Regions from separate parts of the Homo sapiens genome. Here region 2 is linked to region 1. Evidence: fine-mapped QTL for protein levels in blood plasma. Region 1 holds a variant in brackets. A gene starts in the other region. All regions are shown on their forward strands.

Region 1 (15,225 bases):
TCTGTTTTCCAAGGGTGATGGCTATAATTTTAATGCAATCTTGCCTGTATTTTAATATATTGCAGAATTATTTATTTTATTTATATTAGATTTACTCAGTGTAAGATATGCTGCTAAGTGTTTAACCAGGTAAATTAATAAATGTTCAGAATTTAAATTTTCAGGCAATAAAATTAAGGAATATATGTAATACATTATCTAGTATTTTTTCTCTTTCTTTAGCCAGCCGTATTGTTTGAATAAATGTCTACTTATTTTATCCTTCTTTCCTCCTTTTTCCCTCTGTGACTTACAGTACATTTCCTTGTCTAATACTTGGCTGAAATTCCTCTCTCTGTCTCTAAGATCACCATGACTTTGCTATTATTGACTACATCCACCTGAAAATGTCATTTTGGCTTCCTGAGACTCTGATATGCAAACCTGGTTCTCCTCATGTATCTGACTCCTCTTCTACTGCTGTGAGCTTCTTAGGACCAATCATGGTTACATTACTTTCTTCTATCTTTTCTTTGATAACTCATTCACTCTAGGGTTTTGGTGACCATTTTATTACGTATCTGTAGAGTGCCAGCAGATGTAAGGTCCTCAGTAAATGTTTGCGGAAGGACATGTTGATGACTTCCAAATCTACATTGCTACTTATCTTTCCCCCTGTCTTAGGTTTATCCTGTGGTCATACAAATACAGTGCCTTAAACACTGAACTTCATTTTTGTCTCCACCTTGCTCTTGCTATCAATTTTTCCCTGCATGTCAAAGTTACTCTTCTTTTCATCACCCAAACTTGAAACCTCAGAGATATCCTTGATTCCTCTCTTTGCTTCATCTTACATGCACAGTCACCAAGTCCTATCTCTTCATTCTTAGAAATGTCTTTTGGAGGCTCACTTTACCACTTTCACTGCTCCCACACTAAGCCAAGCTTTCATCATCTCTTGCCTGGCCTATTAAATTAGCCTCCAGCCTTCGGTCCTTTTGAATTTCATTCTGTCTTCTTTAACACTATTGCAATAAAATTGTTAGACATCAATTTCATTATGCTATTCCAATTGTTTAAATACCCAGAGTACCTTTCCACCTAATCTAAACTCTTCATCCTGACATTCAAGGATCTTCACAGGTTTGAGCCAACTTACCTATTAGGCCCCATTTCTCACTATACAAAAAGGAAATCCCCTGCCTCAGTTAGCTTCATCGGCCCATCACACTAATTCCCACCTTATCTTATTTGTCCTGGACTGCCTTCCTCTTTTTCTACCTATTTTAATCCTATGCATCCTTCACTGCTCTTCTCAAGTTTCTCCTCCATGAAGCCTTCCTTGACTTTTCTATCTTATCCCTGACTTTTATATGTGCATATTTTCCTTCTTTGCTACTTTGTAGTATTCACTGCCTTTGGGACCTTTCATTACTGGTTTCTTATGCATAAGTCTCATCTCTTCATTGAAGCTCCTCAATGGTAGGCAAGTGCAGTGTCATATGTACTACAGGCATACCTCGTTTTATTGTACTTTGCTTTAAGACTTCACAGATATTGCATTTGTTACAAATTGAAGATTTGTGATAACTCTGAGTCAAGCAAGTCTATCAGCATCATTTTCCAGCAGCATGTGCTCATGTTATGTCTCTGGGTCACATTTTGGTAATTCTTACAAAATTTCAAACTTTTTCATGATTGTTATATCTGTTACAGTAATCTGTGAACAGGAATTGATGATGTTATGACTGTAATTGTTTTGGGGTGCAATGAATCATGCCTGTATAAGGCAGCAAACTTAATAATTGTGTGTGTTCTGACTGCTGCACTGGCCAGCCATTCCTCCATCTCTCTCCCTCTTCTTTGGCGTTTCCATTCCCTGAGAATCAGTACTATTGAAATTAGGGCCGGGTGTGGTGGCTCATGCCTGTAATCCCAGCACTTTGGGAGGCCGAGGCGGGTGGATCACGAGATCAGGAGATCAAGACCATCCTGGCTAACACAGTGCAAACCCCATCTCTACTAAAAATACAAAAAAAATCAGCCAGGTGTGGTGGTGGGCACCTGTAATCCCAGCTACTCGGGAGGCTGAGGCAGGAGAATGGCATGAACCCAGGAAGCAGAGCTTGCAGTGAGCAGAGATCATGCCGCTGCACTCCAGCCTGGGTGACAGAGCGAGACTCCGTCTAAAAAAATAATAATAATAAATAAATAAAATTAGGCCAATTAATAACCCTACAATGGCCTTTAGGGGTTCAAGTGAAAGGGGGAGTCCTGAATCTTTCACTTTAAATCAAAAGCTAGAAATGATTAAGTTTAGTGAGGAAGGCATGTTGAAATTGAGATAGGCCGAAACTAGGACTCTTGCTCCACATGGCCAAATTGTAGATGCAAAGGATAAGTTCTTGAAGGAAATTAAAAAGTACTGCTCCAGTGAATACATGAATGATTAAAAAAAAAAAAGTGAAACAGCCTTATTGCTGATATGGAGAAAGTTTCATTGATTAGGATAAAAGATCAAACCAGCCACAATATTCCCTTAAACCAAAGCCTAATCCAGAGCAAGGTCCTAACTCTCTTCAATTCTATTCAGGCTAAGAGAGGTGAGGAAGGTGCAGGAAAAGGTGCTAGTTTAAAGCTAGCAGAGGTTAGTTCATGCAGATTAAGGAAAGAAGCCATCTCCATAACAAAGTACAAGGTGAAACAGCAAATGTTGATGTAGAAGTTATAGTAAGTTATCCAGAAGATCTAGCTAAGATAATTGTTAAAATGGCTGCACCAAACAACAGGTTTTTCCATATGAAACAGTCTTATATTGGAAGAAGATGCCCTCTAGGCCTTTTATAGCTAGAGAGGACAAGTCAATGCCTGGCTTCAAAGTTTCAAAGGACAGGCTGACTCTCTTGTTAGGGGCTAATGCAGCTGGTAGCTTTAAGTTGAAGCCAATGCTCATTTACCATTCTGTAAATCCTAGGGTCCTTAAACATTATGCTAAATCAACTCTGCTTGTGCTCTGTAAGTGGAAAAACAAAGCCTGGATGACAGCACATCTGTTTACAGTATGGTTTGCTGAATATTTTAAGCCCATTGCTTAGATCTACTGCTCAGGAAAAAAAAAGATTCCTTCCAAAATATTACTGCTCATTGATGATGCACTTGGTTACACAAGCACTATGATGGAGATGTACAAGGAGATTAATGTTGTTTTCATGCCCACTAACACAATATCAATTCTTCAGCCCAGGGATCAAGGAGTAATTTCTGCTTTTAACTCTTATTATTTAAGAAATACATTTTGTAAGGCTATAGCTTCCATAGATAATGATCCTTCTGATGAATCTGGCCAAAGTAAATTGAAAATCTTCTGGTAGGGATTCATCATTCCAAATGCCATTACGAACATTTGCAATGCATGAAAGGAGGTAAAAAAAATCAATATAAACAGGAGTTTTGAAGAAGTTTTCAATCCTCATTGGTGACTTTAAGGGGTTAAGATTTCAGTAGAGGAAGTCACTTCAGATACAGTGGAAATAGTGATAGAACTAGAATTAGAAGTGAAGCCTGAAGATGCGACTGAATTGCTGCAATCTCATGATCAAACTAGAATGGATGAGAAGTTGCTTCTTATGGATGAGCAAGGAAAGTGGATTCTTGAGAAAGAATCTAATCCTGGTGAAGAAGCTATGACCATTGCTGAAATGACAACAAAGGATTGAGAATATTACGTATACTTAGTTGTCAAAACAGCAAGCAGGATGTGTGAGGGGATTGACTCCAATTTTGAAAGAAGTTTTGCTGTGGGTAAAATGCTATTAAACAGCATCGCATACTACAGAAAAATCTTTTGTGAAAGGAAATTGAGCAATTTGGCAAACTTTATTGTTGCTTATTTTAAGCAATTGCCATAGCCACCTCAGCTTCAGCAACCACCACCCTGATCAGTTAGCAGCCAAGGTTATGACTTGCTGAAGGCTCAGATTGTTGTTAGCATTCGTTGACAATAAGCTACTTTTAAATTAAGGTGTGCATACTGTTTTTCTTAGACATAATGCCATTGCTACTTAATAGGCTACAGTATAGTGTAAACATAACTTTTATATGCACTGGAAAATCAAAAAAATTGTATGACTTGCTTTATTATGATATTAGCTTTATTGTGGTCTGGAACAGAATCCACAATATCTCTGAGGTATGCCTGTAGTTGGTGTGCACATCAGTAGCTGTCAGAGCATTAGATAGAGAATGACTTCTAATTAATATTTGTTGAATGCAAATTATGCTGTCATAAGAATGCATACAGAATGCATAACTCTTCTATTTCCTAATAATCAGTCCAACATTTGGCCTGAATTTTCTCTAGCCTTCAAGACTTTGGACACTTGAAAGTACCAAA[T/G]TGAAATGGAAGGACTGTCAACTTTGCTTGGGTTTCATCCTTTCTATAAGATGGGACATTTACCTTCTCGTTTCTTGACTTATTCACATGCCTTATTGAAGTCATGCATTGAAACATGGAACAAATATCGAACGTATGCAAATTACTTAGCAAGTGAAGGTTTTTTGAGTGTGTGTGTTTTTAAATCAAACAGAAACAATTATATTGAGATTGAAACAGCACTTGAGTTAACCAAGTACCTTGCTGAAGAAGATGAAATTATAGTATGGCATACAGTCTTGGTAAACTTGGTAACCAGGGATCTTGTTTCTGAGGTGAACATCTATGATATATACTCATTATTAAAGGTAATTTCATTCTTTCTTATGTAGTTTTTAAATAAATCCTCTCTTCTTCTTTTCATATTTTAGCCAGCATCTGTGAGACAGGTCTTTTCCAAAGTAATAGTCTTAGTTCCATATATATATATATATATATATGGAAGTATATACATTTCCTTAACAAGGGCTGATTGATCTTAGAAGAAAATACCTTAGTCATAGACCTGGTCTAGGAGATGAGTGAGGTTTGGAAGGGTACTTCATTCTTGGTGAAGTGACAGTATGTCCTAAGAAACCAGAAGTGGATGGAAATGGTATGCCTGTTTTTTTTTTTTTAGGGAAAAGGATAGTATTTATTAGCAACTATTTTCCTAAGAGATTGTTAGGCAGCCAGAATGAAATGTAACAACTCTGTGTTTATAATTTCAATATTCTGACTCATAGGAACAGCACTTAAATCCAGAGAGATATATTCCAGAAAATGTAAAAATTTGAAGATGCTTTTGATATTAGGAAAAGAAAGAGAGAAATTAGAATTACTGAACAGAGAAATGACATGCCATAATAAATGAAAAAAAAATTTCCATTTTTAGATCTTAAACAGTAATTATAGGAAAAAATAGCAAAGGTAAAATCAAAGCGAAAGTTAGGTAGCCCTCTTTGGGGAGTTAGGGGTCACACAAACCAAAAAGTATGTTAGGTAATGATTTCAAGTGAATTTCTGGACCATTCAGAGGGTGAGATCACAAATACGTCTAACGGCCCCAGACTTTCTTTTTCCTAGTGGCCGAAGTACCAATGGGAATTAAGCTGAGCTTGGGATGGTGATTAATAAAAGAAGGCACTAAAATTTTGGTGGGATTGAGGAGGCTCGTTGATAACATCTGATGACTTGTTCTGGGTAAAGAAGTAAAACTAATATTTGTTTTCAAAGAATTTCAATGAACAGCAGCTAGTTAATTCTTAGGGATGTATTAGTAAATGTCTAACTTTTATAATTTTATATTTACCAGCTAATAGCTTATATTTATTTCAAAATTAGGGCTTCAGTGTGTCCAGGACATAAACCAGTTCTTTTTTTTTGAGGAATGTATACTTAGCATGGATGTTTTATGGTAGAAAGGCTATTTTATATTTTTACATTTCTTCTCTATTTTGAACATAACTGGAAATGTATGGGATGATGTTAAATGATCATTATAGCCAATATTTTTTGAGTTCTTGCTTTGTGCCAGGCAATGTGCTTGCAATATATTATATTATTTAATCCTCATAATACACTGTAACATTGGTATTATGGTAAACCACATTTTATGAAAAATGGAACTAAACCGAAAGAGGTTAAAAAATAAACCAGTTATATATTTAGTAACAGATAAAGGTAATTTCTGAAGAAATATCTGCCACTTGTCTATCAATGTCTTTTCAGATAAATAAATAGAAACACAGTGAAAATTCAGTGTTTGCAAGCCAGAACTAACAGTGTATTTTCTTTATTGTTTATAGAGGTACCTATTAAAGAGACTTAATTTAATATGGAATATTTATTCAACTATAATTCGTGAAAATGTGTTGGCATTACAAGATGACTACTTAGCTCTGTAAGTATGTTTTCAGAAGTGATAATTGAATAAAATGCATTCATATTAATAGGCTTCCAGAAGTAATAAAATAAAATCTTCATATCTGTTATTCATTGAGAGATTTTATATGCTATTATTATTTGAGAACAATAGCTCAGAGGTTGGTGGGCTACATGTATTCTAACAGAAGTTAATCGTTTGAGATCTTAATTTACCTGCAAAGCACGTGCATGTACACATAGGAGCTTATAGCTCTATATTCTCAAAGCCTAGACTACTGGTTGAAATTATAAATGTGTCCTACTATTGGTGAAGATGTACTAAGCAAAGCTAGCCTATACCAGTGAGTTGAAGGGCGTGGGAAAGCCACAGGGGAAAAGGTCCCATCTGTATTTTATTATTAACAGAAATTCAGTCATTATGCAGGTAAGATGAAGTAGGTTGACAGTGATATAGATCAGTCACTGCTATAGGTCTGTGAGCACAAGTTAGTTTCACAAATGACTTTCATATTACTGGTTTGGTGAGGAGAGTAAGCATATTGTCATGGTGGTCTAGGAAGGAGGCAAGAGGCAAAATGGGGTGGTAGTATTTCTGTCTTCCCTGTGCCCTAAGTTTTGTGTGTAGGATGGTCTCTAGATATAGGGAGGGACTCTGTAGCCAATAACGGTATAGGGATTATACCTACAACTTCTGGTAAACATCAGGTTCAAATCAATTAGACCAAGCAAGAAATACAAAATATACAAAGTATGATTATTCTGTCTCAATAGTACTCTTCTGGGAGGGCAGAAATTTTAGTGCTAAGGGATGTGATTAGAAGGACATAAAATGTAATGCATGAGTAGGTGGACAATGGTAAGGACTAGCTGGGATCAAGAATGGTTAGGCAATCTGTATGAATGAGTGGGAAGGCAAAAGTGTGCTCAATCAGGCAGCACATTTGTTAACCAGACATTTCCTTGGCTCTCCTAAATTGGACTGAAGTAGCCTACTTTTTATAGCATCCCAGGGACAGTTCTCTTCAGAGAAGCTCTAGGGAGTTAGACTGCACTTCCACAGAACTCCAGCTTGTTGCTACCGGCTTGAGATTGGGATGGGTGAGGAGAGGGGGTGAGTAGAGTATGTAAATGAATGCCTAGAACTGTCTCTCAGCGGACCTCCACCCTTGCACATTCCTCTTCAGCTTATCAGAAGGTCAGGCCAGGCTGGGTTGAAACTGGAGGACGGAGTAACAGAGATTTGGCGCTTGCGTTTTCTGGAAACTTATGACCAATTTGGGTTTCTTTACCCTGACCGCAAATCTGGAGTAGGGACCACAAGGCATCACTTACCTGGATTTATTATTGGTCTTCACTGTATTCTTTTGAACTTATTTTGTTTTGAAGTACAGTGTACACCCCTGCTCAGCTGTGAAAACAAATCAAACCAACCAAACACCTTTATTCTTTTCCTGAACATGTATGTAACAGCCAGGAGGAGTAGAAGAAACACACTAAAGCAAAAGAAAACAAATTGTAGAAGGAGAGAAATGAACTATTCCCTTTCCCTTTCTTTTATAGAGAAAGAACTTTATTTTAAAGTCTATTAGATTAGATACTCTGAAATCATTTTTTATCCATAAGGCAATTGCAGTAAAAGACAGGAAAAATAAATTGACAACAGCTGTGGAGAGTGTGTACACCCATGTGTGTTTAAGGGAGATGAAGGATGGCAGTAATTTGTTTCTAACTTTCAAAAAATACTGGCTTTAGGAGCTCTTTTTGGTGCCTAAGAGCCTCTCAGTAAATATTTCTCTGAATCTTAAATACATCTGTCATCCACAAAAACAATTTTTTAAAACAAACCTGATGTCATTGAAAGGATATTTAAAAATACCCATCTTTTTATGAAACACATATTCTTGGAGGCAGAGAAAATGAAGGTGGTAATGCAAAATAAACTGTTTTTCTTTGACTTTTTCTTCAAGAATATCACTGGAAAAACTTTTTGTAACTGCGTGTTGGTTGGGCCTTGAAGACTGCCTTCAGCTGTCAAAAGAACTTTTCGCAAAATGGGTGGATCATCCAGAAAATGAGTAAGAGTAATATCATAATTCCTCTTGTTTTTGTCCTATTTTAGCACCAGCAATTTCCCTTTTTGATGTACTCACTGTGGGAATGAGTGTTTTGCTTTCACTTGGTTAGGCGCTCTCTCCTACTATTCTTTTCAAATACCTTTTTTAAAAAACCAGTGTTTAATGTGGGTCTGTGTATAACGATAGACTAGAATTTATACAATGAATTGTCACCTAGGACCTCTCATTGCCAAAGCACTCTTCCAATAAGCACTTACTTTGAGCTGTCTATGCTTGTTTTGAGTCTTAATAGGTTGTTCTTTATGATTGTTTATGATTGTTATATCTATGAGTGCAGCAGAGCACCTCTCTCTCCATCTCTCTCTTAGTTTGTTGCCTCACTGAGCTCTGAAACTCTCATTTTGGTTTTATTACCTTTGATATAGCACCTCGGATGGACTCTTAGGAAACATGATAATCAGATACAAGACCAACTTGTATTATCAATATACTCTATACTATTCTAATTTACTTCTTTCTTAAAGCCCCTTAGTTTGGAATTTGATGATCTCTTCTCATGGAACTAATGCTAATGACAGTTCTGATAATTGCCTCTCTAGATTCCTACTTTTGACCTTTATATCTGTGACTATAAATATTTTTTCTAGATTCATACTTCTAAAATATGATAACCTGGGTAAACATAACTACTATGAAAAATATCATTTTATGTTATATTTTACAGAATACCTTATCCAATTAAAGATGTGGTTTTATGTTATGGCATTGCCTTGGGAAGTGATAAAGAGTGGGACATCTTGTTAAATACTTACACTAATACAACAAACAAAGAAGAAAAGATTCAACTTGCTTATGCAATGAGCTGCAGCAAAGACCCATGGATACTTAACAGGTGATTATGGTCAACTTACCTTGAAAGTTTCTGTTATAGGAATTAAATTAATAAAGGAAAAAAAATAGAAATGTGCTAATGTAAGTATTAAAACGTTGCGTATTTGTGCTTCACTACCTTAGAACCATGGGATTTTGATTTTGTTTATTTAAATTAACTCTTTATGTTGGATGTTTAAAATGTATTTTTTGAAAATGCACTTTTGCAGATATATGGAGTATGCCATCAGCACATCTCCATTCACTTCTAATGAAACAAATATAATTGAGGTTGTGGCTTCATCTGAAGTTGGCCGGTATGTCGCAAAAGACTTCTTAGTCAACAACTGGCAAGCTGTGAGTAAAAGGTAAGAAGGAAAGTGAGACCTTTCTTTCATTTAGGCCACTGGTTTGGCACTGGAAGCTCAGCTTTAGTCTAGCTTGGAAGCTCAGCTTTAGTCTAGCTAGGCCACAAACGTCCTTTGCATTGACTAGAAAAGTTATCATTTTTCCTTTGTTTAGTCTCACTACAAACTGCCTGTGTTATGGAAGAGCAATACATGAACTTTTAACTATGGCTTGAATATTTTTATCTTTTAGTTGACAACATGCCATACTCATAAAACAGTTGCCTATTCTACTTCTGGTGAATTTGCCTTAGTTCACTTTTCTTGCAATTCTGCTACAAAATGTTTCAGACTCAAATTAATTTGCTTTCTACATCTTATGCATTTATTTTTAGGGCTTAGTTTATATTCAGCAGTTTTGTTCAATTTTGCTAATAGTTTTGTTTGAATAGACTGTTACATTATTTATGGATTGTAAGAAGGAAATAAAAGTTCAACTTAATAACTAAAATTTTATTTATAGTCAAAATGACACAGGAATATTTACTTAGTTCTTTATACATCTGAATATTTAATTATCACTAATTAAACAGACATATTTGACATGATAATATGTATGTCACTAGTCCTCATGTAATGATGAAGGTAGTATAAAATTATAAGTAAAAAATCCTTATGCCAAATTAAATTTTATATTAATGGTGTGGAAAGTATTTATACTGAATTTGCTAAAATGTGACTGATCACTAACAAGTTAGCACTTAGTTTTTCTGACGCACATTCCACTGCATGCTACTTACGAAGATGGGGATGATAAGCCTTCTGGGACAGATGGAGACAATAGCTCAGTCAGTTCTGAAATTGTTTTAACCCTCACTTTTGCAGACTCACAGTGCATTTTAGCCTTATAAAGTCTACAAGAAGCCCTGCAGAAGGAAACCTAGAGTTTTCCATACAGTTTGACTACATAGCGTCTTCTAGGTATAGTTCTTCCAAACTCCAGCTTGGGATATGCTGATGTAAACAAAACGTCATTTTGCCAGTAGACCAGTTGTTCCAGAAGAAAGACTGATGGGAGAAACAAAATTTTCCAACCCTCTCATTTGGTTCTGGAACTGTAAAAAAAAACCCATTAGTTAACATTTAGGCCTTGTTTTCTTCTCTATAGAGTAATAGATGTATTTGATAAATTCTAAGATTCTTTCTAGTAATAAAAAGTTTTAGTCCTTCTACATCAAGGTGCAGTTCAAATTGTTATTGGAGATGTAAAAGGATTAGGACTTGGTATCTGATAAATGCTGTAGAGGAGAGATGGCAAGGGCTTTTGGGGATTTAAGGGGAAGAAAGGGATGTGCATGTGATTTGAACAAGCACAGTTGCAAATCTCCTCCTTCTACCTGGAGGACAGAACACCAGGAAATGCCTGGAGGCAGAGTTGGGAGGCCAACTTGGGACTAGTCACAGTAACTGGCAAGAGCTTAGAGCACTGGAGAGGAGTTAGGAGTGGGAAGGTAAGTTGAGGCTCAGAGAGAAGGACAGGGGTTAACAGGCCTTGAATATCATGTGAAGCAGTTTTATTTTGTGTGCTCTTCATTGGTGATGTCTTGTTTCTAACTGGTGTCGTATGTGAAGCACACACAGGCTGTCCTGATTATGACAATGTGTTAACACTATTGGAGGTCAATTCTAGAATCGGGGCATGGGGATAGACTTAACTAGAGCAGTGTAGCAAAGTGGAGGTTTCTTCCTCTAAGAACTATGGAAAGTGTCTCTTCATTACTGTCCTTTGTCCTTTTATTTATTGTGTTTAGTTTTTCATGTATCCACTAGATATATGGTATGTCAAAGAGTTAAGGCAATAGAATCTAGAATCAGATCAATCTTAGGATGAGGAGAGTGCTAAATATGTAACCTTAAACAAGATTTTTAACCTAAGCTTCAGCTTTCTCATTCATAAAGTGAGGATAATAATGAATAGGCTTTAAGATAATTTAATAATGTGCTATTTAAAGTGATTGGTACATAATAAATGTTTAATGTTCATTATTATTATCTTACTGAGATAATATGATGTATCTGCTTTATTACAAGTCCCTATATCATTCACTTTATTTCTTTTTCTCAATATTGTCAGTTTCTATTTTTATGAAATTTATAACATCCCTCAGCAGTATTAGAGTCTCATGTTTAGAATGAAACACACATTAATGTTGTTCTTTAAAATAACATGTTTAGTCTAGGCATGGTGGCTCGTGCCTGTAATCCCAGCACTTTGGGAGGCCAAGGCAGGACGATCACTTTAGCCCAGGAGTTTGAGACCAGCCTGGGCAATATAGAAAGACTCTATTTCTACCAAAAATTTAAAAATTAAAATAACGTGTTTATATATGCAATAATTACAGTTTTCACAGCCACCCATAAAATAATTGCCAATTAATAACCAAGACTCAGAAGTTAAATTACTTAAAGTCAATACCTAGTAAACAAAAGAACTTGAATTAAACCCGTATCCCCTGGCTCTGATTCCCGGTTCTCTATTTACTTTCTCCTAAGTAAGAAAATGCATACTTCTTAATTATTTATTTTATGAGAGTACTACTGAAAATATTTAATCTTTTAATGTGTTCTTAACTAATGCCTCATCTACATTTCCGGTGGCTCACGCCTGTAATAATCCCAGCACTTTGGGAGGCTGAGGCAGGCAGATCACCTGAGGTCGGGAGTTCGTGACCAGCCTGACCAACGTGGAGAAACCCCGTCACTACTAAAAATACAAAAGTAGCCAGGCATGGTGGCACATGCCTGTAATCCCAGCTACTCAGGAAGCTGAGGCAGGAGAATCGCTTGAACCCGGGAGGTGCAGGTTGCAGTGAGCCGAGATCACACCATTGCCCTCCAGCCTGGGTAGGCAACAAGAACAAAACTCCATCTCCAAAAAAGAAAGATATGCTATATCTTTTAAACATTTTGAGATGCCAAGATTTGTTCAAATATTTTAAATTTGTTTTACTTAGAAAGCTCATCTTATGACGTGATTTATTTATCTCAATTCCAGAAAATGTTTAAATAAATGAAGTGACTTTTCAGTTGATTTTTAAGAAATTAATAAACTTAATTTTTTAGGGTAGTTTTAAGTTCACAGCAAAATTAAGCAGACAGAGTTCCCATATATCCCTCTCCCCACAGAGACACAACCTCCCCCTCTATCAACATCCTGCATCAGAGCCACACATTTACAGTCACGAGTTGATTAACAACAGGAATACATTCTGAGAAATGCATCCTTTGGTGATTTAGTCATTGTGTGAACAGCATAGACTGTACTTACACAAACCTAGATGGTAGAGCCTACTACACACCTGGGCTCTATGGTATAGTCTATTGCTCCTAGGTTACAAACCTGTACAGCATGCTACTGAATACTGGAAGCAGTAGTAACACAGCGACAAGTATTTGTGTATTTAAACATATCTAAACATAGAAAAGATAATGTGCTAAAAGGCATTGTGCTACAATGTTACAATGACTATGACATTGCTAGGGGATAGGAATTTTGTAGCTCCTTTTTAATCTTGTAGGACCTCCCTCATACATATTGTCCATTGTTGACTGAAACATTGTTATGTGGCTCATAGCTGTACTATAATTGATGAATATAAACAGGCACATCATTATCACCCAAAGTCCCCAGTTTACAACAGGGTTCACTCTTGGTGTTGCACATTCTACGGGTGTTGATGTATTAATGTATAATGATGCATATTCACCATTGTAGCATCATACAGAATACTTTCATCCTTCCCTCTGCCCATAGTCAGTTGCTTTTTTATGAAAATGTTTGAATAATCTACTTCTTATTCCAGAAGATTTCATTTTATTTTTGTTTTTGCTTTTTAATGTGTAGAGTTTTTGGTTGCTAGTTTGGTCTTGGCTGTGGGAGCCAGAATCATCATCATGAGTACGAGCAGAGGGGCTTTGCGCCCCTCCCATAAGGTGGTATCTTGCTGGGATCTTGTGCTCCATTTCTACAGGGTGAGAGACAGACTGGCAGAGGCAGCTTGCCTAAATGCAAAAACAAACAAATACCATCTCAGGTCCAGCTTGGCCCTGGGCATGAAGTGACCAGTGCTGTGGTTTTGAGTACATCTCTCCCTTGTCTCAGAGCATTCATGGGCATATGTCTCACAGTGACATGCAGGCAAGCTCACAGACATCGTCTCCACACCAAGGCACATGTTGGAGTTGAGTACATCGCCAATAGCAGTGCAGGAACCGCTGCTCCTTTCAGCCAGGCCCAGAATTCTTCCTAGAAAGCCTAATCTGGAAATACATTTTGGAATATTTGATTAAATAAAACAACTTTTGGCTTGGTCTTGGTCTTGCCCCTCACTCTCATGTACAGGGCATTATACTGGTTGGTGTGGGAAAATTTAGTTAATTATTGGGCCAAAGATGATCTCTTGAATACTCATTCCAATGAGAAAGACTCCATTGGTCATAAAGCTACTTTCAAGTTACAGAAAAGTCAGTAGGTACACATAGCTATGAATAGGTCCTATGAAAGCATGTGAATAGTGATGAAGCAATAGTATTTTTGTGACTTTCCACTGGATGTGGTAGAAGCATTATTTGTTCCGTTATCATCTCTGTTAAATGGGCTTCACAGCATACAGAAAAACCACTTTTATTTGAATATAGAATACAGAGCATGATCAGTTTTAAACTCAACCTGTCCAAAATGAATCTTACCCTCTTCACTAAGCACTTGATTTTTTTTCTCCACATGTTATTATATAGCCTAAAGTCTTAAGCTTAAAAACTTGGAATTGTTTTCACTTCTACTTGGTTGTATTTCATGATGGGGAACACAGCCAAAAAGGCTAAACAGGAGCACAAGCAAAGTGAGAAGTTATCAGAGTGGAGGGTCCAAGCACTGGGGGGCCTGTTCCCATGGCATGGATCAGGCTGGATGCCTTGGTGTTCCCATGCTGGCCTCGTGGGCATCCTTGCCAGAAGGAATCTGACATGGCAGAGGACATGAAGGGAGGGGTAATGTGAGAAGAAGGAGAGGCAGAAAGGTGAGCCAGACTGGAGTACCCAAATCACTGTTCCCACACTAACGTTAGATGTTATCAACTTTTTAGAAAGGATTACTATATTGAGTCGTATTGGCTTTTGACTTCATATTAATTAGAATGTATTTGAACACCGGTGGGGGTAAACTATTCGTAATGCAATTTTGTTGAGTAATATTTGAAAGAGATTGCTCTCTCAACAAGAATGATAAATCATCTCTGTTTCAAAAATAACCCCTGTTGAAGTTGACAAGAGCAGGAAGGGATGAAGTTTGCCAGGTAATCTAATAGGTGCTTCCATATACATTTTCTCATTTATGCACCAGAACAATGCTTCTAAGTATCTGTTATTCTCCATTTTTACAATTTATAAATTGCCCAAGGTAATGTCAAATCCAGCCCTGCCTCCTCGGGTAAACTTTCTCCTGTGTCTGGCAGAAATTCACACATTTAGCACCATAGGTAGGTTTCCTCTGTTTTCCATTTTTATTTTTAAGGTTGGAATTTGGGTTCTTTGGAACTCAAATTTCTTGAGTCATTTTATAGATTTTTGCTGCCTAGCTGGCCAGTTAAAATAGAGA
Region 2 (15,225 bases), not on the chromosome of region 1:
GTTTCTGACCACAGGTACAGAGGCATCAGCGCTACGTGCTTCGCCTTGTTCACCCTCTTCCCAGCCAAGTCGTTTATACAGGGTTCTTGGTTCAGCCTGAGTCCTGGGAATCTTGTTCCAGCTCAGGGCGATCAACCCATTCAGCCCAGCCTAGCCTCATCCTTTTTTCAAGGAGCCTGCCCAACTTTCGTGCTCCAGGTCTGGCCAAATCCCCGCCCCAGGGGTAGGAGATCCTGAATGCGCGCGTACTAGCCATTGGGGCAGGGGAGTCAACCAAGTTCGTGGTGGGGGTCGGGGTGGGTGAATGACTGTAGGGAGAGGACCCGGACTAGATGGTTAGTGTATGTCGCATGCATGAATGTGCGTATCCCGAACTGTGTCTGTGGGGCTCTGGGCGACCGGGGCATGTGTGCGGATGTGTGTCCGCGCCCGTGAGCGTGCCCATGCATCTCCCTTCCTGGGCCTGCAGGGGGCGCCCCGAGCCTGGGAAGGGAGGCTCTGGAGTGGGGCGCGGCTGCGGCAGAGGGGTGGGCGCATGCGGCTGTGACCCTGCGAGCTCCTCAGAGAGGCTGCGGTGAGCGGGCGTCCGAAGTCCCTGGGCCTGGAACAGCCTCTGGCGCCCTCCCGGCTCCCTGGCCCCGCCGTCCCTGGGGTCCCCGCGCGCGGGCCGGGCGTATGGAGGGGAGGCTCGGGCTGTGGGTGGTGCCCGCGCATCCGATGACCTGGGCCGACAGTTACCCCGGGCCAGGACACCGCCGTCCGGCCAAACCCCTGCCACCCAGGCCCCCGAGCCTCGGGGGTCCTCTGCGGGGCCGGCCCAGCCCGGTGGCCGGGGGAAGGCCCGTGTTTGTCGGCGAATATGAAGCATTTATCTTTCCCTCCCACGCCCCAAATAGTCCCGATTTACCCAGAGCCCAAGGTGCCCAATGTTGAAGTCTTGAAATAATTACTGTTTGGCTTAAAGGCTGAAGGAGGGTTCACATCACCTCTGGCACTTCGCTCGCACCCGATAGATATCTTACACCACTCATTACGGGGCCAACGCTAAGAAAGGTTTCCTTATTCCAAGGAAATATATTAGGCGCGAGGCTGGGGCTGGAGGATGAAGGGCTATAGCCTGACATGGGCGGAAAAGGAACTTGTCTTGCCCATAAGTGGACACAGGGAAACGCGCAACCTTTGGCCTAGAATGAGACACATGTGAGAACAAATCGTGAAAATAATTGAAAACAAATTGGTCCTAGAAAGATGAAGGAAATGAGAATGGAAAATTCAACCCCCACTCCTGTTTTCCTGTAGCAGACAGAGGACTGCTGCCTCCTGGTGGCCGAGCGGGGCAGTGAGCGCCTCCCAGCAGGCGGAGGCTCACACAGCGCAGGGGATACTCCGAGCAGAAGCTGGCGCTGGCTGCTTAGGCCTTCACAAGTGGTGTTCAGTTATTCTCTTAATATTGGATTGAAATTTATTATTACCACAACCCATGATTCTAAAGCAAAAGTCTCAAAGAATATGGTAACAGACTTTCTCTGGGGTGTTTTAGTTTGCTGCCTACTGAGAAATGGTTGTCTTGAAGAAAACAGAGCTTTCAGCTTCTTGACATAGCAATAGACGTAGGTCACCAAGGTCACAAGGTCATACAATTCCCCTTAAAGTAGGCACTACTAGAAGAATTACAAATATAGGCCTGGCACAGTGGCTCTTGCCTGTAATCCCAGCACTTTGGGAGGATGAGGCTGGAGGACCCCTTGAGGCCAAGAGTTGGAGACTGCAGTGAGCTATTACTGCACCATTGCACTCCAGCCTGGGCAACAGAGTAAGACCCTGTCTCAAAAAAAGAATTACAAATATAGGCGTTAGAAAAAAAGAGAGTTGGCAATTTCAGCATCCATAAAAATGGTAATCCAGCCCAAGACTGATGGCAAAGGATAGAAACGTTGATGACTTTAACAAAACAGCATTATTTTGTCCCCAGATACAAGGAGAAGTAATGCCTGGATGTGAGAAAGAAAAAGAACTTCACAAAGGATACCAGCTGAAGCTTAAGACATATTTCACAGGTAAGCGATTATAGCTGGGAAACAAATTAATGTCACCTTTCATAGACAACAAGTGACAGACCCCACCCCTCTGACTCCCACTAGGTCATTTGGCATGGTAGAGGATACCTAGTGTGTCATTCTGGTAGCCCCATAATTTAAATTTTTTTTTTTTGAGACGGAGTCTTGCTCTGTTGCCCAGGCTGGAGCGCAATGGTGTGACCTCGGCTCACAGCAACCTCCTGGGTTCAAGCAATTCTCCTGCCTCAGCCTCCCGAATAGCTGGGATTACAAGCACCCACCACCATGCCTGGCTAATTTCTGTATTTTTAGTACAGATGGAGTTTCACCATGTTGGCCAGGCTGGTTTCGAACACCTGACCTCAGGTGATCCACCCGCCTCGGCCTCTCAAAGTGCTGGGATTACAGGCATGAGCCACTGCCCCCAGCCCATTATTTTTAATTTTTAAAAGAAAGGTATCAAAAGAAAGAACCCGACAGTTGTTGGTAATCACAGCCCTCTAAAAGGATATCATTAATAAGTAGGAATTGTGGCCAGCCAAAGTGTGGCCCAAGTATCCTGAAGGGAGGGGTTCTTAAGAAATCTGATTGCTTACTCTTTAAGAGTTTTTTTGTAGGCTACTTTGCCTATGGAGTAACCATTCTTTTATTCCTCTACTTTCTTAATAAACTTGCTTTCACTTAAAAAAAAGTTTCTTGTAATAAAATGTAGAGACAGGGCCTTGCCATGTTGTTCAGTCTGATCTCAAACTCTTGGGCTTAAGCCGTTCTCCTACCTCTGCCTCCCAAAGAGCTGAGATTACAGGTGTGTGCCACCGCACCTGGCCGACTGCTTACTTTGGAATTGGTTTCAGGTTTATAGGACTAACTGAGGCTTGTTTGTTTTTCACTGCAGCCTCGAACTCCTGAGTTCAAGAGATCCTCCCACCTCAGCCTCCCAAAGTGCTGGGATTATAGGCATGAGCCACGGTTCCTGGCCTGAGATCTATTAGCTCTAATTTTTTGTTTTTTAAAGGTGGGGTATTGCTCCACTATGATCAGCTATGGTGTGATCATAGCTCACTGCAGCCTCGAACTCCTAGGCAATCAAGTGATCCTCCCACCTCAGCCTCCAAGTCGCTAGGACAATAGGCCTGTGCCACCGTGCCTGGCTAATTCTTTCTTTTTTTTTTGTAGAGACAGGGGTCTTGCTTCGTTGCCCAGGCTGGTCTCAAACTCCTGGCTTCAAGCCATCTGCCCACCTCAGCCTCCCAAAGTGCTGGGATTATAGGCGTGAGCTGCCATGCCCAGCTAGCTCTAATTCTTTACTAGTCCCACCTATCCTCTATATCTGTATCAAAGAAGCCCTTAAAATATTGACAAGGAAGGAGTGAACCGGGAGAAGCAGGAGGAGATTCTGAGGCAACACTGACAAGTGGGAGTCAGCCCATGATTTCATTAGTGTGTGTGTGTGTGTGTGTATGTTATCATTTTGTGGAAGAGATAGTGGTGAAATTATTTAAAAACATGGTATGGCCAGGCACAGTGGCTCACACCTGTAATCCCAGCACTTTGGGAGGCCAAGGTGGGAGGATCCCTTGAGCTCAGGAGTTTTAAGACCAGCCTGGGCAACATAGTGAGACCTCGTCTCTACAAAAAATGAACAAAATTAGCTGGGTGTGGTGGTGTGTGCCTGTAGTCCTACCTACTCAGGAGGCTGAGGTGGGAGGATTGCTTGAGCCCAGGAGGTTGAGGTTGCAGTGAGCTGAGATTGCGCCACTCACTTCAGCCTGGGTGACAGAGCAAGACCCTATCTCAAAAAAGGAGCAAATAAAAACAACAAAAATACATGGTATTAGTAATTTTCTGGATGACACTGAGGAGGACTCATTGTTAGAACATAGTGATAACTCACTTTTAAAGCAATAAATTGCTTCTGTGGTTCTGTGATAAAGAAAAGTCAGGATTCCAGGGATTAAAATGAGTTTTCATGCTTAAGGAATGAAGATTTTGTAGATTTTAGAGATAATTCATCTTTAGGATTTTTTTTTTTTTACATCTCTAGTAGAAGTCATTGTTTCCCTGTTGGATACTGGCATATGAATATTCAGTAAATATGAATTTTTACTGTATTCACGAATAAGACATTAGAAATCCTTCATATTTATAATTTGATTTTATGCTTTGTATCTATTTTTATTGAAATATTTACGTGTCTCAGCAGTAGGCTTTTGGAAAGTTACCTTTATCTCCTCTCCCATTTGGGCTCTTGGGGGTTTATGCCTTTATTTTATTTTTAAAATTAATTTATTTACTTTGAGACAGGGTCTCTCACTTTTTAGCCCAGGCTATATGGCTCCCAGGCTCAAGTGATCCTCCCACCTCAGCCTCCTGAGTAGCTGGGACCATAGGCACATGCCACTACACCAGCTACTTTTTTTTATTTTTTGTACAGACGAGGTCTCATTGTGTTGCCCAGGTTGGTCTCAAACTCCTGAGCTGAAGTGAGCGTCTTGGCCTCCCAAAGTGTTGGGATTACAGGCGTAAGCCACTGCGCCTGGCCTTGCTTTATGCCTTTACACGCATACATGCACCAAAAAAATTTACTGTAGTTTTAGTCGGGGCTCAGTGAGAAGTGAAAATAAAGGCATGTAATTAATTTTCCATCCCTACCCTGAACTCCGATTTGTTTTTAAATTTAATGGTGTTGATCTTTAATGATTTACGTTTTATGGTTTTATGACTTGTTTAAGAAACTCTTTTTGGCCAAGCAGAGTGGCTCATGGCTGTAATCCCAGCACTTTGGGAGGCTGAGGCGGGTGGAGCGCTTGAGCCCAGGAGTTCAAGACCAGCTTGGGCAATATAGTGAGACCTGGTCTCCATTTTATTTTAAAAAAAAGTTATTTTATACCTCGAAGTTATAACCACATTCACCTATATTTTCTTCTACGTATATCTTAAACATTATGTTTTGAATCCATCTCATATGATGAAGAATTTGAAAGGCAATGTCAAGATAGAGGTATTTTAAAAAGGGAAGGGCATTAGAACCTTTAAGAAAAACAAAAAGATGAGTGACGAAGGAAAAGTGCACTACTTTTGTCTGCAGAGAACATTTATATAGTCAAAATAATGTAATATGTGATAATACATATTATGTAATAGTAATCCACAATAATATAAACTGTAATTATGATCTAAATATGGTAATATAATCATGATCTAAATATTATGGTATGACTATATTTAGAGGATGCAGTGACAGGAGAGGAGAGTTGGCAAGAGAGTTAGATCTTCACTTTTTATAGTAGGAAGTCATCTGGTAATGTTTAAAATAGGTAAATCAAGAAACAGAGGTATAGGCAAAGTACTTAGACATATGGCACTAAGAAATAGCATAGGAGTTAAAGTTGTAGGAAATTATGTTATTCAGAATAAACCTTTTGGTACTTTTGGATATATTTTTTAACTGTGAGTGTGTATTATGTGATATTTTTTGAATTATGCATCAAGAGAATAAGAGAGAAAAGAGAAAGAACAGGACAATGTTGTCAAAGATGAAGGCAGACAAGGAGAGTGGCCAGTCATGATCTGATGGAATAAATAATATATTGCATGCTTACTCAGAGCAGGGCTTGAGGCAAATACCAGGCATGCAGGTGTGGCAGGAGAATTTAGTGAAATAGAGAGTTTTGTTTTTTCTGCCTATGTTTTTCTTTTCACTATAGAGTAGGCAAGAGTTTTGGCAGGGCTGGGAGTGATGTCCTGATGTCAAAGGGAGCCTGACGTCAAAGGCCTTTTGTAAATGTCTTACACCAGGGGAAAATGCCGGGCATAGAGGCTCACACCTGTAATCCCAGCAACTTGGAGCCTGAGGCAGGAGGATCCCTTGAGCCCAGGAGTTTGAGGTTACAGTGAGCTATGATCCTACCTTTGCACTCCAGCCTGGACTACAAAGCAAGCCTTAAAAAAAAAAAAAAGTAAACTTGTAAACTTGGGGAAGAGGTTATGCCCTGGAGGGGCTGAGGAGAGGGAGACAATTGTTTAGGACTGCGAAGGGATTAGTGTGTACATCCAGCCAGAGTGGGCACTGGGCTCTAATTTCTGTCTGTGATGGGGCAAGTGACAGGACTGTTGAGTAGATGGCTTCGGGGGTATCTGGGGAGGTCAAGTCCAAGCCCAGAGGCTGTCATATCTGAATTCTTATGTCTCAAATGTGGAGTCTAGGACTTGAAGAGATATACCTGCTGGAACCACAGGGGTCAGAACACTCACTGGCGAGACTGATGTCCAATGATAGGATGGTGTAGGAGGCAGGTAGGAGGCCTCCCTTGGGCCTTGAGGTTTCTGTGACCTTTGCATAACCCTTGGCAGGTGGGATCCCACAAGAGTGCCTGATGTTGAATTTCTCATCAGCACTCTAGTGCAGTAGCTTGGAGTAGGAATTAAGTTCATTTAAGGAACATTTCAAAAGTAGTATTTCTTGCATATCTGAGTTTATAGATTAATTTCACACCTGCTGCCCTAGGACAGGCAGGGGAGAGGCCCTGTCTTCACCTGCTGCAAGAGGAGCAGACAAGCCAATACTTGAGGATGTTAGGATAGGTGGTAAGTGCTGTGGCATACTCAGGCTCCTACAGAAGGAAAAGTTGATGGAGCAGCCACTTCTAGCTTCTGAGGTTCCTACCTTTCTTCTTCTTCTTCTCCTCCTTTTTTTTTCTTTTCCTGAAATGGAGTCTTGCTCTTGTCGCCCAGACTGGAGTGCAATGGCACAATCGATCTCACCTCACTGCAACCTCCGCCTCCTGGGTTCAAGTGATTCTCCTTCCTCAGCCTCCCGAGTAGCTGGGATTACAGGCGCCCGCCACAATGCCCGGCTAATTTTTGTATTTTTAGTAGAGACGGGGTTTCACCATGTTGGCCAGGCTGGTCAGGAACTCCTGACCTCATGATCCGCCTGCCTTGGCCTCCCAAAGTGCTGGGATTACAGGCCTGAGCCACCGCGCCCGGCCTTGAGGTTCCTACCTTTCTTGCCCTTCCCCAGGATCTGTTCCCTTCTTTCTCACATTGTCTGGCCCAATCTGATGGCTTCTACTCTCCCCGCCTGGAGGTGATTTGGGGAATAGAAGGGTCTTCACTCTGGGGAGGAAGAGGTAGAGGAGAGCCATCTGAGGCCTTCCAGGAGAGGAGACTGATTCACACCTGAATCCTGGGGTTCTGAAAACCTGCCCCAGGAGACTTATTCCTTGACTTCAAAGGGTTAAATGGGCTAAAGTAGTCTGGATCCCAGCCAGGAAAGAAAGGAGGAAAAAAAAAGGGAGGAGGTTTTTCCATCTGGAAGGAGGCTGAGTGAGTCCAGGGGCCCAGATAGGAATAGAAGGAGAGCACAACAGCCCCATTAAACAAAGAGGAGAGGTCAAGGCCCGAGCTTCACTGAATAGGGCTGAAGCAAGTCCCCTCGGGTCTTTGCCTCCCAGGGGCTCTCTCAGGGCTGGAACTGTGCTAGGGCAGGTTTCAATATAACTTGTGTTTGTCTGTGTTATAGATGGGCCCAAGCCACAGCTTCCCTCCTAGGGACCCTTCCAAAGAACCACTTGGAGGGTCTCATTGAATAGTTCCCAGGGAAAAGAGAGGAAGCCTCTGGGATATCTGGGGAAAGGTCTGAAGGTCATGGAAAAGATCCGAAGGTCACCCCTGGAGTTAGTGCAGGACAGAATCAGGGTCTCAGAGGTCTGCAGAGCTGTTGGGGGTGTGTGCTCCATGTCCACCACCTCTCCATTGGCAGGATGCCTCAGAAGACTGGGTCCTACCCTGTCCTTCAGCCTCCCTTTAACTGCTCAGGGGTGCAGGCACCTGAGAGGCAAGGAAACTCTTGGGGTAGATGAGAACATAGCATTTTTCAGCCTGAGCTTTCGGCTCAGAGTGTGTGACCCCACCCTGTAGGAACCTTGGCATCTCGGTGGACATAAACACATGGGAACAGGTACTTGGGTGGGAAGACAGAACAGCTTTTTATTCAGTTAGGTATAAATCATATTTACAAGGAAGAGGTGGGGTGTACTGGGGAGCCGTATCAGGTCCAGGGTCCTGATGATTCTCCTTCAAGGGGACAGTCCTGCTGCCTCCTCTCATGCTCCCTGGGAGACTCTCCCTCCTCGGTCTCTCTGGACCTGGCCTGCTGTGGGCAGCTCAGCCATGCAGGGTAGAGCTGGGAATGCAGATGGGGTGGTTAAAGCAGGAGAAAGAGTGTGGCAAGGCCAGCATGGGGTGGCTGCTCCAGGGCCCCTGAGCATAGCCTCCTTCTTGCATCTTGGGTTCAGGCTTCAAGCGCTGGTGAGGCTGGTGGGGTCTCCAGGGCTCCAGGCTGCTCACTGGGCTATGGCCCTTTAGGGGTCTGTGACCGCTCAGTCCTGTGAGGGCAGAAGAGGGGTGTGAGGGGCTGACTGAGGCTCCCCTTTACCCACATCCCTCAGATTCCTCACCTCTTGCAGCCTTTGGAGCCCTTTCCTTTCTTGCCAGTCTTGGAGGCCCCCCTGTCCTTCCTGCAGCCCTGGGCTGGTTTCTGTGGGGATGGTGTCTTGTCCAGATGCTGCATCAGCTGCTGCACCCAGAGCTCCTTTGGGTCTGCACATAGCTCTGCCTGAGAGCGCTTGCGGGGCAAGAACCTGCGGGTGGGGGCTAGTAAGCCTTCTTAGTCTTGCCCACCATGCCCTCCCCACCCCGTCACCAGCCAGTACCCACCCCTTTGTGTCCACTCACAGGATAGCTGGGATGGAGCAGCCTAAGCTTGGTTCCTGCTTCCGGTAGCTGCGGACAACCTTGGCGGGAATCTTCCTTTGGCTGTACTTGAGGCAACAGTCCTGAGCCCCTCCATCACTGCCTGCAGGGTGGGATTCACAGGGAGCCAGGGGCTGCTGGCAAGCTCCTATCCAGGCCTCTTGATCCCCTTAGCCCCATGCAAGGCCCCTCCCTGCCTTGGTACCTTGGGTCCTGGGGATGCCAAAGGCCAGAACCAGGATAAGGAGGCTCAGAGCCAGTGACTGAGCCATGTCTGTGGTAGAGGGTGAGTAAGAGGCCAGAGCTGAGGGTGAGGTGGGCAGCTGCAAGTTGGGGGTCTGTGCGTGGGCTGGGATTGGCCTGCTATTTATGTAGCTAGACACTTTCACTTCCCTTAACTTATCCCCACTCCTTTTCCTTCCTGAAAGCTGGATTTGCTGGCACCCAGCCCCACTTATCTCAAACTAAGTGGACAGTCCTCAGCTGCCAAATTTTATGTCCTCATTAGTTGAATATGTCTGGGCCTGAGCCTTCCTTCTATTCCCAGCTACTGCTTTCATGCAGGCCTCACTGCCTCTCCCCTGGAACACCATGACTGTCTCCTCACTACGCTCCAGGATCCATACCCTTCCCCTCCTTCCAGCAAATCTGATTATTAAATTGTAAGAGTTCTTTTTTTTTTTTTTTTTTTTGAGACAGGGTCTAACTCTGTCACCCAGGCTGGAGTGCAGTGGTTGATCTTGGCTCACTGAAATCTCCGCCTCCTGGGCTCGAGTGATCCTCCTACCTCAACCTCCCCAGGAGCTGGGACTACAGGCAAGCACCACTGCGCCTGGCTGATTTTTCTATTTTTTTTTTGTAGAGACGAGGTTTCACGATGTCTAGCCCAGGCTAGTCTTGAGCTCCTGGGCTCAAATGATCTGCCTGCCTCAGCCTCTTGAGGAGCTGGGACCACAGGCACATGCCACTACGTCCGGCTACTGTTTTCATTTTTCATTTTTATTTTTTCTAGAGATGAGGTCTTGCTATGTTGCCCAGTCTGGTCTTGAACTCCTGGGCTCAAGCGATCCTCCTGCCTTGGCCACCCAAAGTGCTGGAATTATAGGTATGAGCGACTGCACCTGGTCTGTAGCATAACCATTTTGATTCCCCTTTGCTTTCCTTTTCTATATATTTTGTAGTTATTTTCCTAATGGATACCTTGGTGATTATAATTAACATTCTAAACTGATAACAACCTAGTTTGAATAATACCAACTTAGTTTCAATGGTATATAAACATTTTGCTCGTATACATTTTAGTCCCTTCTTTATATTGTTATTGTCACAGATTACATCTTTATACATTGTGTTCCCATTGACATAGATTTATAATTATTGTTTAATGCATTTTCCTTTTAAATTATATAGAAAAAAGTGGGGCTACAAACTAAAAATACAATACTAGCTTTTATCTTTTTTTTTTTTTTTGACACAGGGTCTCGCTTTGTCACCCAGGCTGGAGTGCGGTGGCACAATCTCAGCTCACAGCAGCCTCGACCTCCTGGGCTCAAGTGATCCTTCCACCTCAGTCTCCTGAGTAGTGGGGCCACCATGCCTGGCTAATTTTTGTATTTTTTGTAGACACGAGGTCTCACTATGTTGCCCAGGCTAGTCTCGAACGCCTGACCTCAAGCAATTCACCCGCCTTGGCCTCCCAAAGTAATGGGATTACAAGTGTGAACCAGCATACCTGGCAATGTTGTTACTTTTTTTTTTTTTTTTTTGAGACAGAGTCTCACTCTTTCGCCCAGGCTGGAGTGCAGTGGCGTGATCTTGGCTCACTGCAACCTCCACCCTCCGGGTTCAAGCCATTCTCCTGCCTCAGCCTCCCGAGTAACTGGGATTATGGGCACCTGTCACCACATCCAGCTAATTTTTCTATTTTTTGTAGAGATGGGGTTTCACCATGTTGGCCTGGTTGGTCTCAAACTCCTGACCTCAAATGATCCGCTCACCTTGGCCTCCCAAAGTGCTGGGATTACAGACATGAGCCACTGCGCCCAGCCTGCTATGTTGTTATGTTTATCAGAGATCTTTGTTTCTTTGTGTGGCTGTGAGTTATTATTTTTTGTCCTTTTGTTTCATTCTGAAGGTCTTCCTTTAGCATTTGTTTGTTTGTTTGTTTGTTTTTTCTTTCTCCCGTTAGCTTTTCTTGTGGGCAGGTCTACTATTAATGAACTTCCTAAGTTTTGTTTATCTGGAAATGTCTTATTTCTCCTTAATTCTTGCAGCATAGTTTTGCTGGATATATAGAATTCTTGTTTGACTTTTTTTTTTCTTCAGTCTTTAAATATATCCCCCATTGTCTTTTGGCCTCCCATGGTTTCTGAAATCAGCTGGTAATCTTATTGAGAATCTCTTGTACATAATGAGTTACTTCTCTCTTGCTGCTTTTAAAATCTTTGGGTTTCAACAATTTGACTATAATTTGTCTTGGTGTGGATCTCTGAGTTTATCCTTCTTAGAGTTTGTGAACTTCTTGGGTATGTATATTCATGCTTTTCATCAGATTTCAGATGTTTTGTCATTATTTCTTCAATTTTTTTAATGCCCTGTTCCCTCTCTTCTCCTCCTGAGACTCCTGTGATGAGGTACATTTGATGGTATCCCTGAGGCTCGTTTATTTTTCTTCTCATACTTGATAATTTTAATTGTCTTATCATCAAGAATACTGATCCTTTTTTTTCTGCTTAAATTAGTTGTTGATTGCCCCTAGTGAATTGTACATTTCAGTTATTGTATTTTTGCTTCCAGAATTTCTGCTTGAGTCCTTTTTTTCTTTTTACTAATTTCCATCTCTTTATTGATAGTTTCATTTTGTTCATACACCATTTTTCAGATTTCCCTTAACTCTTTGCCCATGGTTTCCTTCAGCTCTTTGAGCATATTTAAGACAGTTATTTTTTTTTTCCAAAAGGGCCATTGTTTCCCAATTTAATTTGAGGTCATAATAAAACAAGCAACAAAGCAGTATTTGAGATTTCAGCTTCTCACCCTTATCATCAAACCTCCCATCATCAATATTTATTGAGCATTTACAGTAAGACAGTTAAAGTCTTCATCTACTATGTCCAATATCTGGGCTTCCTCAGGGATAGTCTCTGTCAAATTCCTTTCTTCCTGTGAATGGGCCATACTTTCCTATTTCTTTGTATTAGTAATTTTTTGTTGATAACTGGGCATTCTGAATATTACAGTGTGGTATCTCTAGAAATTCAATTTTTTCACTCCTTAGGGATTGCTGATATACACTTGTTGAGAACTCTGCCATCAATTTGTGGTGACTTTTTCAAACGGTTTTTTGCAAAGTGTGTATTCTTTGTTTTGTGGGGTTACTGAAATTTCTGTTTATGACCTGACAAAGGGTTCTCTTCCTTCCCCGCAAAAAGATTCTGTCCCTTTAAATCTTCTGATATATGTGGCTCAGGAAGATCCTGAAGCCCAAGAGGGCTGAAACAAAGCAAGCCTGTCCCTTAGGGAACCAGAAGACAAACCCAAATGCAAAACCCCTCATTTTTGGAGGACAGGGTTCCCCCTGCCCACTCAGTGACCACCCAGCTACTTCAGGAATGTGGGCTGCTATCCCCACTGTGTTGGTTGGTAGCTAGTGCATGCATTATGCTCTCTTCTGAAAGACCAGCAACCTCTCCCTTCATCAAGTACCACCCCCCCTGCTTGTTATAAGTGTCCAATCGGGCTCCAGACTTCTGAAAGAGTCGATTCCAATTGCTCTTTCCACCTCAATAGTTGCTTTGGTGGAGGGACCAACCCCTATAACTTCTTACTCTGCCATTTTGTATGATGTTTTTCTGTAGTTTAATTTTTAACATTTTAAAATCTTTTATCCATTTGGAGTTTATTATGGTATATGATGTGTGAGGGTTATTGGGTCATAACTTAGAATCTATATTTAATACTGGATTGGGACCTTAGAGTTGTAATCCTCACGTCAGAGCTGGAGAATCCATCTGGTTTCCAGAGTGCTAAACTCAGCAGCAAGCTCCTTACATCTTGTTTTTTGAAGGATGGCTTATGACAGGATAGGGAAACCATAGGAAGAGGAGGAAATGAGTGTCAGGAGAGATGTAGTCAGGACAGCCATGGCCAGAGACAGAAATATTGGGTTGCTCTTGGGGAAGGATGGGATGCAGAAGGCATGGGGTTGAAGATGGAGGTACTGTTGGGAGGGGGATAAAGAGGTGGTGTTTCATTCTAAGGTCCACAGAGTAGAGGGGCTGGAATTTGGTGGCCTAGAGGAGAAATAATTGAGCTCTTGAGTCTGAGGTTTTCAGACTCAAGAGACCTTAAGGCTGAGACCTTAAGCAGGGCAGGGAGTGACTCTGTTGGCAAGAAGCTGGTGTTCCTGGAACAAGACTAGGCAAAAACAAGGAGATAAGATTTCTTGGATCTTTTACCTGGTCTAGAGGCAGATCCTGGAACCAGAAAGTTTTAAATTCCCAGCTCCCTGGTTTCCCCACCTGCCTAATGGGAGTGACTAAGAAAGTAGTGAGCAGCCTGTCTCTGAGGAATTCTCAGACAGATAGAATAGCATGGGCTTGGGAGGGGGCATGCAGATAATTCCGAAGTCATATTATATTAGTTTGCTTCCAAACTTGGCTGCACTTCAGAATCACCTGGGTGACTTTTTAAAAACAGAATTAGAAGCAACACGCCAGACCGCCTTAAATAGAATCTCAGAATAGAGCCAACAAATGTGTATTTTTACCAAGTTCTGCAGGTAATTCTAAGCATTTGGTGGGGTGGGGCTGGGAGAGCCACTTGGGCCTATTCTGCTCCCCATCCCACACTCTAGATTGACACAGAGCCGGTGAAAGGGAACAAAGTTGGTCTGGGGAAAGGAAAGCTGGAGTGATGCCCCCTCTACCTCCCCTGGAGGAGGAGACTTTCTCGCCTGGCACAGATTGTAGAAAAAAAGGAGAGATGGCAGGGAAGAGGAGGGGGCTGTACCTTTTTCTTTCCTAAAAGCTTAGGCTTGCTTTCTCTCCAAGATACCTGCCTGTCTCCCTTACCCTTATTCATGCCATGAAAGAAGCTTCTTGTTGTGTCAGATGGTGTGCACAACCCCCTAGGTCCCATCTCTGCCTGGTCTTCCTAGATGCAGGAATCTAGGTTGATTAGGCATCAACCCTAAGCCCCTGCCTGTGAACTTGAGCCTGCAGTGGTAGAGCAGTCTCAGGGAGATGTTACATCCTGGAGATATTGAGGTCTGTCTGCTTGGTGCTGGAGCTTAGAATCAAGGTTAGGAGCCCTAAGGGAAATGAAGGAAGCAGTAGGGGCTTTTCTGGAGGTGGAAACCTGGCTGGACAAAATCCAGCGCAGAAAACAGCTGCCCTGAGAGTGAGGATGGGATAGCGAGTCCCTACCCCGTCTCCAGTCTGTGAGTGGACCTGGTGGCAGGGGTGGTGAGAGGGAGGCACTGAAGCAGGGTAGAAGAGAGTGAGGAGCTCGGATGATGAGAGAGCCATTACCCTTTTCTGGGACCCCAAGTCTTCTGAGCCATTCCTCTGCCCTCAGCTGCTGGCCTGGGTTTATTGTACCCCACAGCCCCACTTGAACTGTAAGCTGGGTTTGGGGATTTGGAGCCTGCAGCTTTGACCCAAGCTCCTCTCAGTCCTCAGACCAGGCTGGATGCAGAGCTTGGGGAAGGGGACACAAAGACTCAGATGGCTGCACATCCGAGATGTGGGTCTCCACCTACAGTTCCAGTCCTCTGGGTGAAGATGTTGGCTTGGTGAGCTCCTGAGAGAAACTGGCTACTTTGTGACAACCTCTGGGATGGCCTAGGTGCAGAGGAGTGCTTCACTGGTACCTGGGGTGAAGGATAAAGGAGGTACACATGGCTGATTTCAGCCCTACCCGTGATGATGAATTCACCAGACTGAGATCCTGGGAGGGGGAGAGGAAGTGTGCTTATTCACACCTACCTCAGCAGGCCCACTACCTCTCTAGGACAGGCACCTGGAGTAGACATCCTAGGTGTGGGTGTTGCAAGAGTCTGGAAATCCCCTAATTGGAAAGGGCCACATTCCCTTCAGTCTCAGGCCCGTTTGCTCTTGCCTGGTGGGGTTTCCAGGGCAGCAGATGCTCCCAGCTTGGCAGGCAAGAGCCAGGGAGGGGTATGGCGGGAATTTCAGCTCAAGGGCTAGGCAAGTCCTGGAATAGGATTGGGGTGGGCTGGGGCCCATGGGCCTGTATATCCAACAAAGGTCAAAGGGCCTGGGTGCGTTGCTGCTCCTGGGTTCTCAGCGGAGCATTGAGCCCTCTAGAAATAAGATGCCCTGTGGACTGTGCAGCCGTTACTGAAGGAGCTACTCAGTTTCTCGGAGTCATAAGTGTGCAAAATGTGTGT

Which allele goes with the higher level. Positions count from the first base shown, and alleles are read on the strand shown. Strength reflects both the effect of a copy and how common the allele is.
For the plasma level of the protein whose gene starts at base 9,155 in region 2, T is the high allele of the variant in region 1 and G is the other (weak association).

What was found. A credible set is the group of variants that fine-mapping cannot tell apart. PIP is the chance, under the fine-mapping model, that this variant and not a neighbour inherited with it causes the effect. Protein levels are from antibody-based Olink assays in UK Biobank. Linkage for the fine-mapping came from a reference panel and not from the study's own genotypes, which makes the PIPs less certain.
Region 2: CCL21 starts here. The variant in region 1 is the best candidate, but not a certain one, in a credible set for the plasma level of the CCL21 protein (UK Biobank, PIP 0.59).

What each region holds. Positions count from the first base shown.
Region 1 is chr5:116,006,176-116,021,400 of GRCh38, forward strand. It overlaps LVRN (laeverin), which reads left to right. Exons shown (of 20, transcript NM_173800.5): 14 at 4,566-4,719; 15 at 6,199-6,293; 16 at 8,245-8,352; 17 at 9,077-9,244; 18 at 9,453-9,590. Among named protein-coding and RNA genes, the nearest start is that of ARL14EPL, 19 kb to the right of the region's middle. The variant T/G (reference allele first, on the strand shown) is at 4,373.
Region 2 is chr9:34,700,982-34,716,206 of GRCh38, forward strand. It overlaps CCL21 (C-C motif chemokine ligand 21), which reads right to left and starts at 9,155. Exons shown (of 4, transcript NM_002989.4): 1 at 9,019-9,155; 2 at 8,796-8,916; 3 at 8,519-8,701; 4 at 8,024-8,446. The coding sequence starts at 9,085. The coding sequence ends at 8,413. It also overlaps a transcript of PHF24 not described here. RefSeq lists a silencer at 429-748.